Homo sapiens: one gene and its partners. The protein of the gene in region 1 purifies or fractionates together with the protein of each later gene. This does not show direct contact. Each region holds a gene or a part of one and is shown in the gene's direction. Other genes may lie near its edges.

The links.
Region 2: the proteins of FLG (region 1) and ARMC9 purify together in Homo sapiens (co-immunoprecipitation; one large-scale study listed by IntAct). This does not show direct contact.
Region 3: the proteins of FLG (region 1) and DSG1 purify together in Homo sapiens (affinity purification with mass spectrometry, with the first as the bait; one large-scale study listed by BioGRID). This does not show direct contact.
Region 4: the proteins of FLG (region 1) and BLMH purify together in Homo sapiens (affinity purification with mass spectrometry, with the first as the bait; one large-scale study listed by BioGRID). This does not show direct contact.
Region 5: the proteins of FLG (region 1) and SERPINB12 fractionate together in Homo sapiens (co-fractionation; one large-scale study listed by BioGRID). This does not show direct contact.

Annotation. Positions count from the first base shown.
Region 1 is NC_000001.11:152,301,647-152,304,954, reverse strand, and holds the end of FLG (filaggrin), read left to right. Parts: coding exon 1-2,255; 3' UTR 2,256-2,790; downstream 2,791-3,308.
Region 2 is NC_000002.12:231,355,620-231,359,139, forward strand, and holds part of ARMC9 (lisH domain-containing protein ARMC9), read left to right. Parts: intron 1-178; coding exon 179-315; intron 316-3,520. UniProt on the Homo sapiens protein: Involved in ciliogenesis. It is required for appropriate acetylation and polyglutamylation of ciliary microtubules, and regulation of cilium length. Acts as a positive regulator of hedgehog (Hh)signaling.
Region 3 is NC_000018.10:31,321,148-31,324,667, forward strand, and holds part of DSG1 (desmoglein-1 preproprotein), read left to right. Parts: intron 1-3,520. UniProt on the Homo sapiens protein: Component of intercellular desmosome junctions. Involved in the interaction of plaque proteins and intermediate filaments mediating cell-cell adhesion.
Region 4 is NC_000017.11:30,267,925-30,271,444, reverse strand, and holds part of BLMH (bleomycin hydrolase), read left to right. Parts: intron 1-56; coding exon 57-174; intron 175-3,520. UniProt on the Homo sapiens protein: The normal physiological role of BLM hydrolase is unknown, but it catalyzes the inactivation of the antitumor drug BLM (a glycopeptide) by hydrolyzing the carboxamide bond of its B-aminoalaninamide moiety thus protecting normal and malignant cells from BLM toxicity.
Region 5 is NC_000018.10:63,566,349-63,569,829, forward strand, and holds the end of SERPINB12 (serpin B12), read left to right. Parts: intron 1-258; coding exon 259-663; 3' UTR 664-2,981; downstream 2,982-3,481. UniProt on the Homo sapiens protein: Inhibits trypsin and plasmin, but not thrombin, coagulation factor Xa, or urokinase-type plasminogen activator. May play a role in cell differentiation.

The DNA of each region.
Region 1 (3,308 bases):
ACAGCTCCAGACACTCAGGCATTCCGCGTGGACAAGCTTCATCTGCAGTCAGAGACAGTAGACACTGGGGGTCCAGTGGTAGTCAGGCCAGTGATAGTGAGGGACATTCAGAAGAGTCAGACACACAGTCAGTGTCAGGCCATGGACAGGCTGGGCCCCATCAGCAGAGCCACCAAGAGTCCGCACGTGACCGGTCAGGGGGAAGGTCTGGACGTTCAGGGTCTTTCCTCTACCAGGTGAGCACTCATGAACAGTCTGAGTCTGCCCATGGGCGGACCAGGACCAGCACTGGACGAAGACAAGGATCCCACCACGAGCAGGCACGAGACAGCTCCAGGCACTCAGCGTCCCAAGAGGGTCAGGACACCATTCGTGGACACCCGGGGTCAAGCAGAAGAGGAAGGCAGGGATCCCACTACGAGCAATCGGTAGATAGGTCTGGACACTCAGGGTCCCATCACAGCCACACCACATCCCAGGGAAGGTCTGATGCCTCCCGTGGGCAGTCAGGATCCAGAAGTGCCAGCAGACAAACTCGTAATGACGAACAATCAGGAGATGGCTCCAGGCACTCATGGTCGCATCACCATGAAGCTTCCACTCAGGCGGACAGCTCTAGACACTCACAGTCCGGCCAGGGACAATCAGCGGGGCCCAGGACAAGCAGGAACCAGGGATCCAGTGTTAGCCAGGACAGTGACAGTCAGGGACACTCAGAAGACTCTGAGAGGTGGTCTGGGTCTGCTTCCAGAAACCATCGTGGATCTGCTCAGGAGCAGTCAAGAGATGGCTCCAGACACCCCACGTCCCATCACGAAGACAGAGCCGGTCACGGGCACTCTGCAGAGAGCTCCAGACAATCAGGCACTCATCATGCAGAGAATTCCTCTGGTGGACAGGCTGCATCATCCCATGAACAGGCAAGATCAAGTGCAGGAGAGAGACATGGATCCCACCACCAGCAGTCAGCAGACAGCTCCAGACACTCAGGCATTGGGCACGGACAAGCTTCATCTGCAGTCAGAGACAGTGGACACCGAGGGTCCAGTGGTAGTCAGGCCAGTGACAGTGAGGGACATTCAGAAGACTCAGACACACAGTCAGTGTCAGCCCACGGACAGGCTGGGCCCCATCAGCAGAGCCACCAAGAGTCCACACGTGGCCGGTCAGCAGGAAGGTCTGGACGTTCAGGGTCTTTCCTCTACCAGGTGAGCACTCATGAACAGTCTGAGTCTGCCCATGGACGGGCTGGGCCCAGTACTGGAGGAAGACAAGGATCCCGCCACGAGCAGGCACGAGACAGCTCCAGGCACTCAGCGTCCCAAGAGGGTCAGGACACCATTCGTGGACACCCGGGGTCAAGGAGAGGAGGAAGACAGGGATCCTACCACGAGCAATCGGTAGATAGGTCTGGACACTCAGGGTCCCATCACAGCCACACCACATCCCAGGGAAGGTCTGATGCCTCCCATGGGCAGTCAGGATCCAGAAGTGCAAGCAGAGAAACACGTAATGAGGAACAGTCAGGAGACGGCTCCAGGCACTCAGGGTCGCGTCACCATGAAGCTTCCACTCAGGCTGACAGCTCTAGACACTCACAGTCCGGCCAGGGTGAATCAGCGGGGTCCAGGAGAAGCAGGCGCCAGGGATCCAGTGTTAGCCAGGACAGTGACAGTGAGGCATACCCAGAGGACTCTGAGAGGCGATCTGAGTCTGCTTCCAGAAACCATCATGGATCTTCTCGGGAGCAGTCAAGAGATGGCTCCAGACACCCCGGATCCTCTCACCGCGATACAGCCAGTCATGTACAGTCTTCACCTGTACAGTCAGACTCTAGTACCGCTAAGGAACATGGTCACTTTAGTAGTCTTTCACAAGATTCTGCGTATCACTCAGGAATACAGTCACGTGGCAGTCCTCACAGTTCTAGTTCTTATCATTATCAATCTGAGGGCACTGAAAGGCAAAAAGGTCAATCAGGTTTAGTTTGGAGACATGGCAGCTATGGTAGTGCAGATTATGATTATGGTGAATCCGGGTTTAGACACTCTCAGCACGGAAGTGTTAGTTACAATTCCAATCCTGTTGTTTTCAAGGAAAGATCTGATATCTGTAAAGCAAGTGCGTTTGGTAAAGATCATCCAAGGTATTATGCAACGTATATTAATAAGGACCCAGGTTTATGTGGCCATTCTAGTGATATATCGAAACAACTGGGATTTAGTCAGTCACAGAGATACTATTACTATGAGTAAGAAATTAATGGCAAAGGAATTAATCCAAGAATAGAAGAATGAAGCAAGTTCACTTTCAATCAAGAAACTTCATAATACTTTCAGGGAAGTTATCTTTTCCTGTCAATCTGTTTAAAATATGCTATAGTATTTCATTAGTTTGGTGGTAGCTTATTTTTATTGTGTAATGATCTTTAAACGCTATATTTCAGAAATATTAAATGGAAGAAATCAATATCATGGAGAGCTAACTTTAGAAAACTAGCTGGAGTATTTTAGGAGATTCTGGGTCAAGTAATGTTTTATGTTTTTGAAAGTTTAAGTTTTAGACACTCCCCAAATTTCTAAATTAATCTTTTTCAGAAATATCGAAGGAGCCAAAAATATAAAACAGTTCTGTATACCAAAGTGGCTATATCAACATCAGGGCTAGCACATCTTTCTCTATTATCCTTCTATTGGAATTCTAGTATTCTGTATTCAAAAAATCATCTTGGACATAATTAATATTATAGTAAGCTGCATCTAAATTAAAAATAAACTATTCATCATATAATACTGTTTGTCTCTTGTATTCTTATTTGTCATAAACACAAATTACATACTTCCCCATGGCCAGAATTAGATGTCTTCTATATCATTGGAAAGCTATATGACCATAAAGCAGATACATTACATTCAAAATAACAAGTAATTAATAATGAAAGACAAAATTTAATCAAGGCCTATATTTTTCTCCAACATAATCACTGTCCCACAATCACATGCAGGAAAAAAAAAAACATGCTCTGCTCAATCATGAATATCACTATTATTAATATGGAATTATCAACTTAGGTGGTGATTAAGCCATGTCAAAGGCAGATCACGAAACAGGAATTACTGACCATAGATCCTTCTTCCAAAGACACTAGGAGATGCTTTGCAATGTAGACTAGTTGGAGCAGAGAAGTTGTGCTGATATATCCTGAAAAAGGGAAAAGAATTAAAAAGAAGTGTCCTCCTGACCTGGAAGGAAAATATTTGTATCTTTGTAATTTAAGCAAGTAGATGAAAATGCTGAAAAAAGAATAG
Region 2 (3,520 bases), on another chromosome or scaffold:
ACAGGGTCAGCCTCCTGGCTCCTGCCAAGACCCTTTAGAAGGTCTGATATGCTAATGATGGTTTAACAAGACTTTGAGGCACCGCCCCCTCCTGTATTTGTGATGCTGCAGTCGGCAGTCGGCAGTCCGAATCTCCTGGCTGGCTGTACTCACTGCCGTTTTTCATGTTTTTCTCCAGGGTGGAAGACCAACACACACCTCCCCAGACAGCCCAGCACGCCAGAAACGGCCACCCGCAGGCCCTGCCAGCCGCTCACGAGGCTGTCTACAGGGAGGGCAAGCCCAGCACCCCGGAGTCCTGCGTCTCCTCTTCATGTAAGAATGTGGGCAGCACACTGGGTCAGTTCTGGGATTGTGATGTCTAGAACCTACGCAAAACAGCAGCAGGAGTGGCAGACGCACGTCTGCTCCTGGGAAGCCCTCTGGTCTCAGCAACAGCCCCGTGTCACAGAGGCTCACGGGATTCCCAGCCCACAGCCAGACCCATGCTGGGCTGGTCCTCTGCGTCCCCTTCTCAGAGCACTGCCTGTTGTCCCGTCTGGGAGCTCCTGGGGCAAGATTTCTGACTGGTGAAAGCCGGCTTTAATGTGAAATTTCGGAGGAGGAATGCCGGGCTGATGTTGATCTGTGACCCTGATTCTGATAGCTCAGATTCTGGTGCAGAGAAGGCCAGCCGCCTGCTGGAAGGCTGGACGGAGGCAGAAATGTGCAACTAAGAGCACAAACAACTCTGGGATCCAAACGCCTTTGAAACTTCCAGCTGAGTTAACCAGAGGCTGATGGGAGATAAAAGTATTTTTTAGATGCCAGAAAAAATATATATACTTTGAATCAGAAATGTACAAAGTATTTTTTTTAATTTTTGAAAGGAAATTAAAAGGATTATGAGCAGTTCAGATAAGACTCTAATTTCCATTTGAGTAGGAAAAACAACAGAGGAACGGGTTGGATTCCTGTCTGAGAAACATCTGAGAACTTGCATCTGCTCACAATTGGATTCAGACGCTTCCAGGCCCAGGTGCAGAGCGGTAGCTAGTGACGAGTCAGCACTGGCTGGGTTATTTGCAACTCCTGGGTCTCTTGGTGATGAGCAGTTTCAGAGGTTTTGCCAGCGTTGATCATCAGTTATTTTACATGTGCTTTACTAAAGCTGTAAATATTAATATGCTCTCCAAAGGTGAGCAGCTTAGTAATTTATCCAGAGATTTCTGCTGCCAGGGTGGAGGTCTTAGGGGGCGTCTGAAAAGTTTTGCCAATTTGACTGAATGCCATTGAGTTAAAACATTTCAAGTTCTTAGGCCTGGACTTCCTGAAAGGCTCCACAGTACATTCAGGGTAACGTAGCGGTAACATCCTTGCTTTACCAAAATGACCACTGAGAGGCCCTTTATTTTTGCACTGATTGGACGTGCCTTTGGGAAGCTGTCATGCTGTTACCTGCAGGGCGGAGGCACTTGAGGTTGGCATGGATGGAAATGGCCAAGGAGCAGCTGCTGCAATGTTGATGTTATTGTTGTTTTCAAGAACAGTTTACTTTAGCCCTGACAAAGTCTGGGCCCAGGCACATTCCGGGTTCTTGCATGAACAGGGTGGGCACCCACCAGGACACTCAGCCTTGGTGGTCACGGGCGGTTGCCAGTGCTTCTTCCTAGGGAGGCAGCAGCTGCCCACCAGCCCCCAGATGGACCGGCTGGAGGCAGAGCAGTGCTTTTCCCAAATCCCGCTGTCAGTGCCCCCATTAACCTGCCCCAAATGCTGAGACCGTGTTCTGAGTGTCCCTTCCTTAAGCCTGCTCCTATTGGCTCAGCCTGGCTGGGACCCAGGACACGGACCCACGCAGCCCTGCCCTTCTCCACCTGCCAGAGACCAGGAATAGTCACTGCCCTCCCTGGCCCTGCCAGGCCCGCTCTGAGCCTCAGGCCAACACCCCTAGTCCTCCTTTTATTTTATTTTATTTTACTTTATTTTATTTTATTTTGAGACAAGGTCTCACTCTGTCCCCCAGGCTGGAGTGCAGTGGCCAGTCATAGCTCACTGCAGCCTCACATTCCTAAGCGATCCTCCCGCATCAGCTTCCTGAGTAGCTGGCACTACAGATGCACCACCATACCAGGCAAAGTGGTTTTCTATTTTTTGTAAAGACGAAGTTTGCTGTTGCCTAGGCTGGTCTTGAACTCCTAGTCTCAAGTAATCCTCCTGCCTGAGCCTCCCAAAGCACTGGGATTACAGGCGTGAGCCATCATGCCTGGCCCTCTTAGTCTCCTTTAAAATCCTTTTACTTGACAAAAAGTTCTTCCTTTGGAAAAACCAAGCCCCAGGTGCAGTTTCCTCTGGGTCATGAGTAAGCCTTTGCCACGCTTGGAGTAGATTCCATTCTGACCTTCTTTCAGACAGGCCTGCCCACGGCCTGTTGCGTCTCCCCAGTTGGCCTCCCTGCCCCTCTCCCTGTCCTGTCACCTGCCTCTGCCTAAGGGATGGATGGCAAACAGCCCTCTGCTTCTGTGCTCCATCTGGGCTTTGCAGATAGGGGGACTGCGGTTAAGTCCATTAAGCCAGGGTATGAATGAGGGGGAGGGGGATGAGCAGCAGGGACAGCAGGGAGTGGGCAGTGCTGGGCTGGGCATGGGCACCCCTGAGCCATGTTGCCTTCTGCTTCATTCCTTCCCTGCTCAGGAGCTTGCTCTGACTTCCTCCAGACAGTCCTGCTTCTCCATCCCTCCCCTCCACTTCAATTGATTGATTGATTGATTGATTGATTGATTGTAGAGAGAGGTGTCTCTCTGTGCTGCCCAGGCTGGTCTTGAACCCTTGGGCTCAAGCGATCCTCCCGCCTCGGCCTCCCAAAGTGCTGGGATTACAGGCATGGGGCCCCCTCCACTTCCCTTCTCTCACTCACCTTGCCCCAGGCCCATCCTGGCCCCAGGCAGCGCTCCCCACAGGTCTCCTTGCACACAGCTCGCTGCTGAGTCTGGCCTGTGCTGGGAACTAACGCCCCACCCAGAGACCCCGTGGAAACCCCCACCTTCACGCTGAGTTTCTTGAGGAAGAGCCTTTGCGCTTTGCGTTCAGTCAGCACCGCAGGGAAAACTCATGAGGAGGAACCTGTTGGACCCTCAAACTGCTTGATCGGTTGAGTGCAGGCCCAGAAAGTACATTCTAGGCAAAAGACAGCCCCAAATGCCAACAGGAAATAGTTCCCAAGGGAAAAGGCCAATAATATGGCTTAGCATTTTGCAGAACGTTGGCCTAAGGAAAGCTATTCTCATTTCCCCACCAACCAGGACTATCTTCAATATCAAAATCACATGCCTTGGGACTTCATAGCCCTGGGAGTTAAAATGCCCAGCCCTGTCTGAAATGGACCAGCAGGCAAGAGATACTACTGTCCCAGGAAGACCCCGGTGCACACCCATGGCTGCCCCATCTCCTAGCTCCTGGCTGTCTTAGTTAGGGGGGTCTCCTGTTTTTTTTTTTTTTTTTTTTTGAGATGGAGTCTCGCTCTCTCACCCAGGCTGGAGTG
Region 3 (3,520 bases), on another chromosome or scaffold:
CCACAGTTTGAACCGAACTGAAATTCTGTAAAATATGAGCAGGAGTTTTTAAGAGTACTTTCATCACTCAGGCTAAAATACACAGAAAATAATACACATTTCATTACATAGTTCCTAAACTTACTTGAAGACATCTTAAGTCCCCAAAATTGTGTTCACAGATGCCTAAAGCAAGAGAAGAACTAACAAATTAGTACAGACCAAACAGAAGACAAGCAAAAGAGAGAGCTCTTTGTGCTTTCTTGAGCGTGTATTATAGTGATATGTAGTATAGAGATCAGTGTTTCAGTAAAATATTTTGTAGAAAATGGAAGGAATATTTCTGTTCACGTATTCAGTGAAACTTACAAATTGCATTCAAGTGTCATCATTAACAGTTATATGGTGTTCATAAAAGCTTTATTATTTCGCTGTAGATTTAGGATTAGCATCTTCTATCACCTTTACAGAAACAAGGAGTACACATTTATCATCGCTCAATTGGTTTGAGTTGCCACAAAGTAAAAACATTTTGTCATCCCTGTTTTAGGAAAAGAGTAGAAACTAAAGCACTGAAGAATGCTGTCTTAAATCTGAAAGGCTGACCCTAGAATAAGATTCACTTATTTAACAAATCTCATCAATCTAGAAAATTATCTTATCTATACCCAGAGCACTTAATTTCTGGTAACTCTTTCTCCACAACACATTCATCAAAGACCTGGTTGCTGAGTATCCCTGTGTCCTAATAGACATTGCCTAACATATCAGCAGGAAGCCTGCTGTGCCAGGCACCGCAATTAGATTTATAATGCTCCCTCATCTCAGGGAACACCCTTGCCCAGTGCTGGGTCATGCCACCCTTGCTGATTATGCTTGATATGCAAATTCCTTCAATAGACTTAGACAGATCAAATTTTTTTAAATGCCATTGGCTGCTGATCCATGCTCTTAATTGGTCTATGAGAATAGGCCACAGTTTTTCATACTCGTCTAATGAGAAATCATATCTCTACAAATTAATGGTTGCCTGTTGCTCTCAAAACTGCAAGACTGTAAGTTATTTGAAGGCAGGTTCTGTGTCTGATTTGCCTTTGTATCCCTTATGGTGCCTTGCACCAGTGCAAGATTGCTCAAAAGATGTCTAATCACACACAGCAGAGGTACCACAAGGAAGTTTCTGGATAGTTTATACAGCTCTTCCCCCACACACTCCAAAAAATTATCACGCTATTAAACATAGAAATAATAATACTGGATTTCCCCAACATTTTAATGGTGTAGTATTAAATTCATTTTACATTTCACCTGAGACTTACTATAATATTTTCAGGCCTTTAAAAGTCTTAATCTAGTGTTGGATCCACATAATACACATTCAGTATGTACTTGTAAAATACACAAACGAAAAGAATAAATTAGAGAATTCAACCCATTAAGGTGCTGTCAACCTCAGACTGATACCCTTTGTCAGAGCAGTACAAAGGAAAGATAAGAGGAGGTTTTTAAATAAAGCAAATTGTGATATTTTAGCTTTGTTTCAAGTGCATCCTTGCGATGTATATAAAAGTTAACAATTACATTAGAATTGAATGCTTAACAAAAACGTAACAATTATGTTAGAATTCAACGCTTAGCAAAAAGTGACTTGGAAGACCATCTCACAATTATTAAATGCAAGAGATTTTTTAAATAAAAATAGCTTGTTACTCTCAAACCCATTTTTATTATGTGCAAGGAAGCATGAACTTCAATATTAAAAAGGAAAACATTAAAAATTACTGTAATTGGGGATTTATTAAAATTAGCCTGTGATTTTGTCTCCTGTAGCTTTTAAAAAGTACATAAATGGATTGGTTCCTAAAACAGAAATGAAGGGGAAACTCATTGAGGATGTATTTCAGGTGAATTATTTACTGTTTTCATAGAATTTTAGGACTAGAGGGGACTTTTAGTCTCATATACAGCTGAGGAAACTGAGCACAGATTGATTTAATGACTTACCCCAAAGTCCCTATCCACTGGGCAAAACAGCTGAGATATACTCAGTCAGCCTGATAACCTCTGTGTTCATCTCTAGGTAAATCTCCATCACAGCCTCCATAGCACAGACTCCAAACTCATTTGGGAATCCAAACTTCTCCCCTAATTGTCAGAAAATAACCTCACCCTTACTCCAGGGACAAGGTCTAGGTCATTTAGGAGAGTGTCCTCCAATTTCCCTTCCCCAGTTTATTGATTTTAATCTCCATCCACCTCACCCTTACTCCAGGGACAAAGTCTAGGTCATTTAGTACAATGTCTTCCAATTTCCCTTTCCTAATTGATCGATTTTAATCTCTATCTTTCCTTGCCTTTGTCTTTGAGGTCCTTTCTTTTTCTGCCCATTCTCTCCTGCTCTCCCTATCACAACACTTCTATGAGAATCTTCCTGCTGAACATCTCTTCTTTTAAATCAAAATCTCCTCCTAGCTTCTATCTTAACTTTCAAAAATCCTTAGGTTACCCTCTCTCAAAAAAAAATGCTACTATCTTGTCCCTCTGTTCCCTTTTATCACCAATGTCTTGAAAAAGTGACCATCTTTATGTCCTCCTCTCCTCCTCTCATTTCCTAATCCCTTGCTGTCAAGCAAGTGCATGTTCCATCCAGCTAAAAATATTCTCTTGAAGGTCCCTCAGAACCTCAGGATTTCCTCAGAATTCACTCTGCTCAACTTTTTTACCTCATCTCTTTCAACCCCATCTGTCTTTCCGTTTTCCTTTTCCTCTGACCTCCATTATAATGCATTATATTTTCCTATTGTTTCTTTCGCCATTCCTTCTCTCTTTCGCCACTCCTTCTCTCCTTCCTTTTTTTTTTTTTTTTTTTTTTCTTTTTTTGAGACAAAGTCTTGCTCTGTCCCCAGGAGTGCAGTGGTGCAATCTCGGCTCACTGCAACCTCCGCCTCCTGGGTTCCATTGATTCTCCTGCCTCAGCCTCCCAAGTAGCTGGGACTACAGGCACGCACCACGACGCCCAGCTAATTTTTGTATTTTTAGTGGAGACGGGGTTTCACCATGTTGGCCAGGATGTTCTCAGTCTCCTGACCTCGTGATCCACCCGCCTCGGCCTCCCAAAGTGCTGGGATTACAGGCGTGAGCCACAGCGCCCGGCCCTCTCCTTCCTTTTTTTTTTTTTTGTTTGTTTGTTGTCGTTGTTCCTAGTTCTATAAATGTAGGAACTCTTCTAGTTTTATCCTCAATTGCAGGCTGATTCTTGACTGTATCCTCTACTTTGGAAATTTCAAATTCTCACGATTTCAACTATCCTGCCTGAGCAGATCTACCTCAAATCTACATATCCAGCTTGAACTTTTGCTCAAGTTTTGATCCATGTTTCCAATTGCTGATCATCTTCACCCAGGCATTATCTGGCATCTCAAACTCAATGTGTTCTAATCTGCTAAATTCTATTACTGTCTTGTTCCCAATCCCACAGTTTAAAACTGCCATCCCCTGAGCTTCCTCCCTCTCTCGAACACCCCCATCCCATTTGTTCTCA
Region 4 (3,520 bases), on another chromosome or scaffold:
GCCAGTTTTCCCCATGATCGTACTCCCTTTATTTTGTACTATCATTCTTTTTACAGCTATGACCATGAGTTAGTGTTTGGTGTCTCCTTGAAGAACATGAATAAAGCGGAGAGGCTGACTTTTGGTGAGTCACTTATGACCCACGCCATGACCTTCACTGCTGTCTCAGAGAAGGTATGACCCTCAGCATGCCTGCTGGAGTGTTTGCACAGATGGATCTACATTCTCCTGTAGACTGTTTACCCAACAAAGCTTCATTCATAGTGTATATGATTTCTGTTAAAAGTTAGTTTCCAAGTAAGACATCGTACCTGCGTCACTTGGGGCTTGGCTGCGTGCTTAGAGGTAATATAAAAATAGGAACTTTCTATGAGGAGAATTTGGGTCAGCAGGGAGCGACCAAGTAACTGTTTCTGTAACTTTGGAAGGTCATGGTTTAAAGAGAAGTCAGCAAGGGAACTTGAGAGAAGATAACTTCTACTTTATAAGGAATCAAAATGTGCCCTGAAAGTGTTCATATCTTGATGACCTATGTTCAGATTTCCCTTCATTTGTCATTCAGATTCTTTTGCAGTAAAATGTCAATAACAGTAATTTGTGGACTCCATACCCATTTCTAGTTATATGCAGAGCTTCAGGAAATTGGATGTAAAGTATTTTGAATTTCCTGTGAAATAGTGTGTATAGTAATACCACTTTTTATAGGTTATAGAGTTGGAAACAACTGAAATTTTATCTTTCACAAATAAACTCCTCACTTCCAGTCAGTAAAAATAGATATTTTCACCTCTGTGCTCAGGATCATCAGGAAGGAAGAACTTGAACTACTTTAATTCTTTACCACCACAAGCAAAAATATTCTTTCTAGCCTAATTCCTGGAAAGTCACAGAATAACTACCTTATATAAATTGTTCTAGAAAATCATTTTTTTTTTTTTTTTTTGAGATGGAGTCTCACTCTGTCATCCAGGCAGGAGTGCTGTAGTGTGATCTCAGCTCACTGCAACCTCCACCTCTGGGGCTCAAAAGATTCTCCTGCCTCAGCCTTGCGAGTAGCTGGGATTACAAGTGCCCGCCAACACACCCAGCTGATTTTTTTGTATTTTTAGTAGAAGTGGGGTTTTGCCATGTTGGCCAGGCTGGTCTCGAACTCCTGACCTCAGGTGATCTGCCCGCCTCAGCTTCCCAAAGTGCTGGGATTACAGGCATGAGCCACCGCACCCAGCTAGAAAATGGTTTGATAGAGAATTGTTTTTGCTATCCTATCCACTAGATTTATGATCTTTAAAATGTTTAGAAATATCTTAGCATATCATTATGCCACATTTTCCTAACTAGCCTATCTAAAAGTCCTGATTTGCTTTTTATACTCTATGCAGAATTGTGAGTGGGATGGGGTTTTCTTTCTGTACCTTTTTCTCACCTCTTCCAACTACTTCACTTGAAGGGTGCCCTTTCAACCCCACAGCATCTAAGATCCCTGTGCTCTCTCTGTATTCAAAACTTGGTCTTAAAGGTTTAATTACATTCCTGCAAATTATAAGGCTAGTGCTTTAAGTAGTAGAACTCTGAGGTATTCTCAGTTTTATATGAGATCAAACACAGTATGGTGTAAAGGTGCCCTGAACTTAAGAGGCAGTCTTAATGCTGATACTCCTGATCCTCATGTAGTTTTCATAAATAAATGTAAAGGTTGAGGTCTTGTAAACCAGCGAGCTGTTTTCCTCATTATTCCATTCGTCAGTAATCTCAGCTCTGTAGTTAGCGAGACTCCCACACCAAGAAACAGGTTTTTAGGGTTACCCAGGAGAATGTGTGGAGTATAATTTGCATTACTTATGTAGATCAAGAAAAGTCATTTTAAAACAGCAAAAGGTGATTTAAGTGTTATCACCCCAATTTAACAAAATTCTCACATTTGAATTATAAACAAAACATAAAGTTAGGTTATAAAAGGAATTTTAGACCGGGTGCAGTGACTCACACCTGAAATCCCAGCACTTTGGGAGGCTGAGGCGGGAGGATCACCTGAGGTCAGGAGTTCAGGACTAGCCTGACCGACATGGCGAGACCCTGTCTCCACTAAAAATACAAAAATTAGCTGGGCATGGTGGCGTGCACCTGTAATTCCAGCAGCTACTCTGGAGGCTGAGGCAGGAGAATCCTTTGAACCCGGGAAGCGGAGGTTGCAGTGAGACAAGATTGCACCACTGCACTCCAGCCTGGGTGACAGAGCAAGACTCTGTCTCAAAAAAAAAAAAAAACAATAAATAAATAAATAAAATACATGAAAAGGTTTTTCAAATAAGGGTGCTTTATAACTAAACTAAAGTTCTTTAAATAAATTTTTAAACTATATAGAGTTCTGTTTTGTGTTTTTTTGTTGTTGTTTTTTTGTTTTTTTTGAGACTGAGTCTTGCTCTGTCGCCCAGGCTGGAGTGCAGTGGCACAATCTCAGCTCACTGCAACCTCCACCTCCTGGGTTCAAGCTATTCTCCTGCCTCAGCCTCCTGAGTGCAGGCGTGCACCATCGGCCTGGCTAATTTTTTTTTTTTTTTTTTTGTATTTTTAGTAGAGATAGGGTTTCGCCATGTTGGCCAGGCTGGTCTTGAACTCCTGACCTCAAGCAATCCACCTGCTTCGGCCTCCCAAAGTGCTGGGATTACAGGCATGAGCCACTGTGCCCAGCCGAGAATTTGTTTTGTTTGTTTGTTTGTTTTTAAAAAAACAAACAAACAAAAACTTGTAATTTCCAAGAAAAATTCAGCTTTTTATCATTTCTATCTCTGTTATAGAATACTCCTATTTTTCAGGAATAAAAATAATGAATACCACTGTCATTTTCTTGGGAACTTCCATTCTTTGATTAGCATGGGTTGTTTCCTTAGGAAAATGGAGCTACCTTACATGCTAATGGTATAAAGCAGAATTTATATTATTATACCTGGAATTTTATATTGAACATTTTCTCTTCATTCCACTAGAGTTTTTGATCCCAAAAACGAGTTTGAACTACACTTGAGTAATAGTACAGAGGTAAATGCATACTAGTGGTTATATTTCCACAATTTTCTTTCTTTTGTTGCTGATATCATGGAATCCCTATAAGGGAGTTCCAGGTATTAATCATTTTGTAATTGTAGATGACCCAGAGAACAATTTGATCTAGGTCACTCCAGGAATTCATTGGCCAAGGGGAAAACATAGGAAACATTTTCAGACTTAGAGTAACAAGTAACTATATCACTTTAGGTGACATCGATTCTAACAGTGATATTTAAAAGGAAAGTAAAGTTGGACTACAGTGGGAGGAATAGAAAACCAAAACAGACATATAATATGCCAGCTGCAGAATGTATAGTATATAACGATATGGTTTTAAAGGATTTGGGGGCAAAGAGTAAGGATTAGTACAGGTAAGGGTGTGTGAAACTTGTGAGTTTGTTGGCGCTATTTGTGAGACAGAAAATTACTGAGATCCAAGAAAACTGCCAAGAGTGGAGTGTTTGGGTTAGCAGAG
Region 5 (3,481 bases), on another chromosome or scaffold:
GACTGAGCTTTGCTGTGCTTTGAACACTTGTCTCTCAAACACCAGAGCACACTGGAACCTGAGTTGTCCCCTAACTTCTTCTAAAGAGGAAAGATATTTGCTTGAAGTTTTAAATGAAATCAGACTATTCTCTAGCTTAGGGAAAGGTCTTGAAGGTTGTCACTGCCCACTGAAAGGGACTCAGGCACCTTGAAGTAATTGGGGCATTCTTTGTGGTCCCATAATCTGATGCTAAATATTATTTCCTTCCTCTTGTAGCTTGAAAGGAAAATCACCTATGAAAAAATGGTGGCCTGGAGCAGCTCAGAAAACATGTCAGAAGAATCGGTGGTCCTGTCCTTCCCCCGGTTCACCCTGGAAGACAGCTATGATCTCAATTCCATTTTACAAGACATGGGCATTACGGATATCTTTGATGAAACGAGGGCTGATCTTACTGGAATCTCTCCAAGTCCCAATTTGTACTTGTCAAAAATTATCCACAAAACCTTTGTGGAGGTGGATGAAAACGGTACCCAGGCAGCTGCAGCCACTGGGGCTGTTGTCTCGGAAAGGTCACTACGATCTTGGGTGGAGTTTAATGCCAACCACCCTTTTCTCTTTTTCATTAGACACAACAAAACCCAAACCATTCTCTTTTATGGCAGGGTCTGCTCTCCTTAAAAGGGGAGCAGTGTCTAGTACTTTGGAGCTGGAGGAAAATATCAATACAATCTTCCCCTGGCATAAGATGGGCATTTGAGTTTTTGGTAATATCTAAAGCATCTCCTTCATCCTCCAGCCATCGGCTTGTGCTTATCTTGATCTTTCTGTCACCCTGTAGCTTATTTTCATCTGAGTCTGTTAGTATTGAAGGGCTGTTGTTCTCTACCCTAAACTTTCAAGCATATAAATTCACCCTCTGTGACCTGAAGGTCAACACAATTCAGAACAGTACCTACCTCCTTTTGAAGGAATCCTAAAAGTTCAGGTCATTAGACCATTTCTAAGAGATGGCAAACTCAGAAGCCACTTTAACATGGGCAGCAAGAGAACATGTTTGACTGGAACGTGTTTGGAAACTCAGCTCTGTTTCTGGGGTAGTTTGACCGGAACGTGTTTGGAAACTCAGCTCTGTTTCTGGGATAGTTATGATTGTGGTCATCACTGGGCGAGATGCCCTGTTTCTTCCTTTGACAGCTACTGCATGGAAGATGTCCTGTGAGGTCTTTTCACCTAGGACAAGGCAGGGCTTGGGCGTATTTAAGTGATAGCTCAAAGATGTGTGACTGCCCCAACCAGCACTCATTTTGCACAGAGCAGGGGAATGATATTTGTCTTGTGATTTTGACACTGACCCAGGAAAGTGGCTAGTGGATTTAGAGGAGGTTTATCTCAGTTTTCCTTATTGAGTCCCCCAACATTATCATCAAACACTTCCCTCTGTCTCTCCTCCCCCTAGCTCCAAGAATTCCCACCTGTGGCTAGCTCCTTTTATGCACCCAGCACAGGCAGGTGTCAAGAGAAGTGCTGCTGGCATTGTGGACGGCTGGCCTCCGTATGCCCCTCTCTCTGCCTTCTGGCCACGTGGAGGCTGGCCTCTGTGTGCCCCTCTCTCTGCCTTCTGGCCACGTGGAGGCTGGCCTCCGTGTGCCCCTCTCTCTGCCTTCTGGCCACGTGGACTTTTGTGTCTTCCGAGAGGTCTCATGCCAGACCACATGGTGACAACAGGCTTGAGCCTGGGCATGGTGTCCATAGCAATGCTTGTTGGCTGGGCATGATGGCTCATGCCTGCAATCCCAGCACTTCTTGGGAGGCCGAGTCAGGTGGATCACTTGAGTCCAGGAGTTCGAGACCAGCCTGGGCAACATATTGAGACCCTGACTCTACAAAAAATACAGAAATTAGCCGGGCGTGGTGGTGTGCACCTATAGTCCCAGCTACTCGGGAGGCTGAGGTGGGAAGATCACTTGAACCCAGGGGATGGAGGCTGCAGTAAGCTGAGATGGCGCCACTGCACTCCAGCCTGGGTGACAGAGCGAAACCCTGTCTCAAAAAACAAACAAACAAAAAACCCAAAAAGCCAAAACAAAACCTGAAACCCTTGTCAAGAAGGCCATTGGGCTCATCTCAAGCTCTAGTCTACTGAAGGCCTGACCTCTGAGTGTTCCTACTCGCGGACTCAGGGCCTCTGTTCTCTGGTGTGGTAATCTGAGTTCCTAATTTCTATCTTAGCTGAATGTTCTGCCATGACCACTGACACGTCCAACTCACATCTCTTTGGAGTCAGTCTCTTTCCTATCGAGGTGGGTTTCAGGTCTTGCTTGCGGCTCAGTTTCCTTGGCCCACCTTGTGGCTGTCCTCCTCCCAGCTGCCACCAGTCGTTCAGTGTGGCCACGCAGTTTTTTTGCAGAAGGCAGGTGAACCACACCTGCTCCCATGCTAGCCTCCTCTTCCTTTTCTCACCTACCCCAGTGATTTCTTTGTGCTCTGAGAGACAAGTTCCATGTTCTCCATACAACCTTCTCATTGTTGAAGCTCACTTACGACCTAAAACAATTTGACGTTGGTAACGTGAGGCAGTTTGAGGCAGTGCCCTATCCAGAATGCATGTCCCATGGGTCAAATTAATTTCAGATAACCAAAAACTTCATGTCCCCTGTGGTTCCTTTTGGGGTTGACGTTTTGGGGGCTGTTTCCATGTCTGACTTGGCACCACTGCCCGACACGTAGCTGGAAACCATGACCTATATATAGGCCTGCACTGCCCGGCATTTCTTTTGTTCTTATTCTTTTACTTGGTAAACACATTTTTTTTTCATTTACATCGGGATTTCTCAGATTTTGAAGCATGAGAGGGAGAATGTATCTATTTACAATAATGAGGAAAATTAAGAATCTTAAATCTTTATGTAAATCAGTAAACATTCTTTACTAACCTTTGATTTATTAAGAAGTTTCTTCTGAATGAATAAAGCACTTTTGTTATTAGTTAAAATATATACGATGTGTTGCCAACTGATTTTTTTAGGGATATAAATTTAACTTCAAACTGTTTCATCCAAAAATATAAAAATACATAATCTATGAAACTAACAATTCATCTCAGTTACACAGGAAAAATACATCTTGCCCCAGTAATAGTTTCTCCCAGCTTTCCATCATAATTACATATGAAGGCATATAAAAAAGATGAAAACTGACAATGCTAAAACCAGAGTGATAGCCAGCTGATCATCAGAATATAGAAGACATTTCTGCCGACTACAGGTTTTTCTTTTTTTTTTGTTTGAGATGTAGTCTTGCACTGTTGCCCAGGCTGGAGTGCAGTGGTGCAATCTTGGCTTACTGCAACCTCTGCCTCCTGGGTTCAAGTGATTCTTAAGCCTCAGCCTGCTGAGTAGCGGGATTACAGGCGCCCGCCACCACGCCCAGCTAATTTTTGTATTTTTAGTAGAGAGGGGGTTTCACCATGTTGGCCAGGCTGGTCCTGAACTCCTGA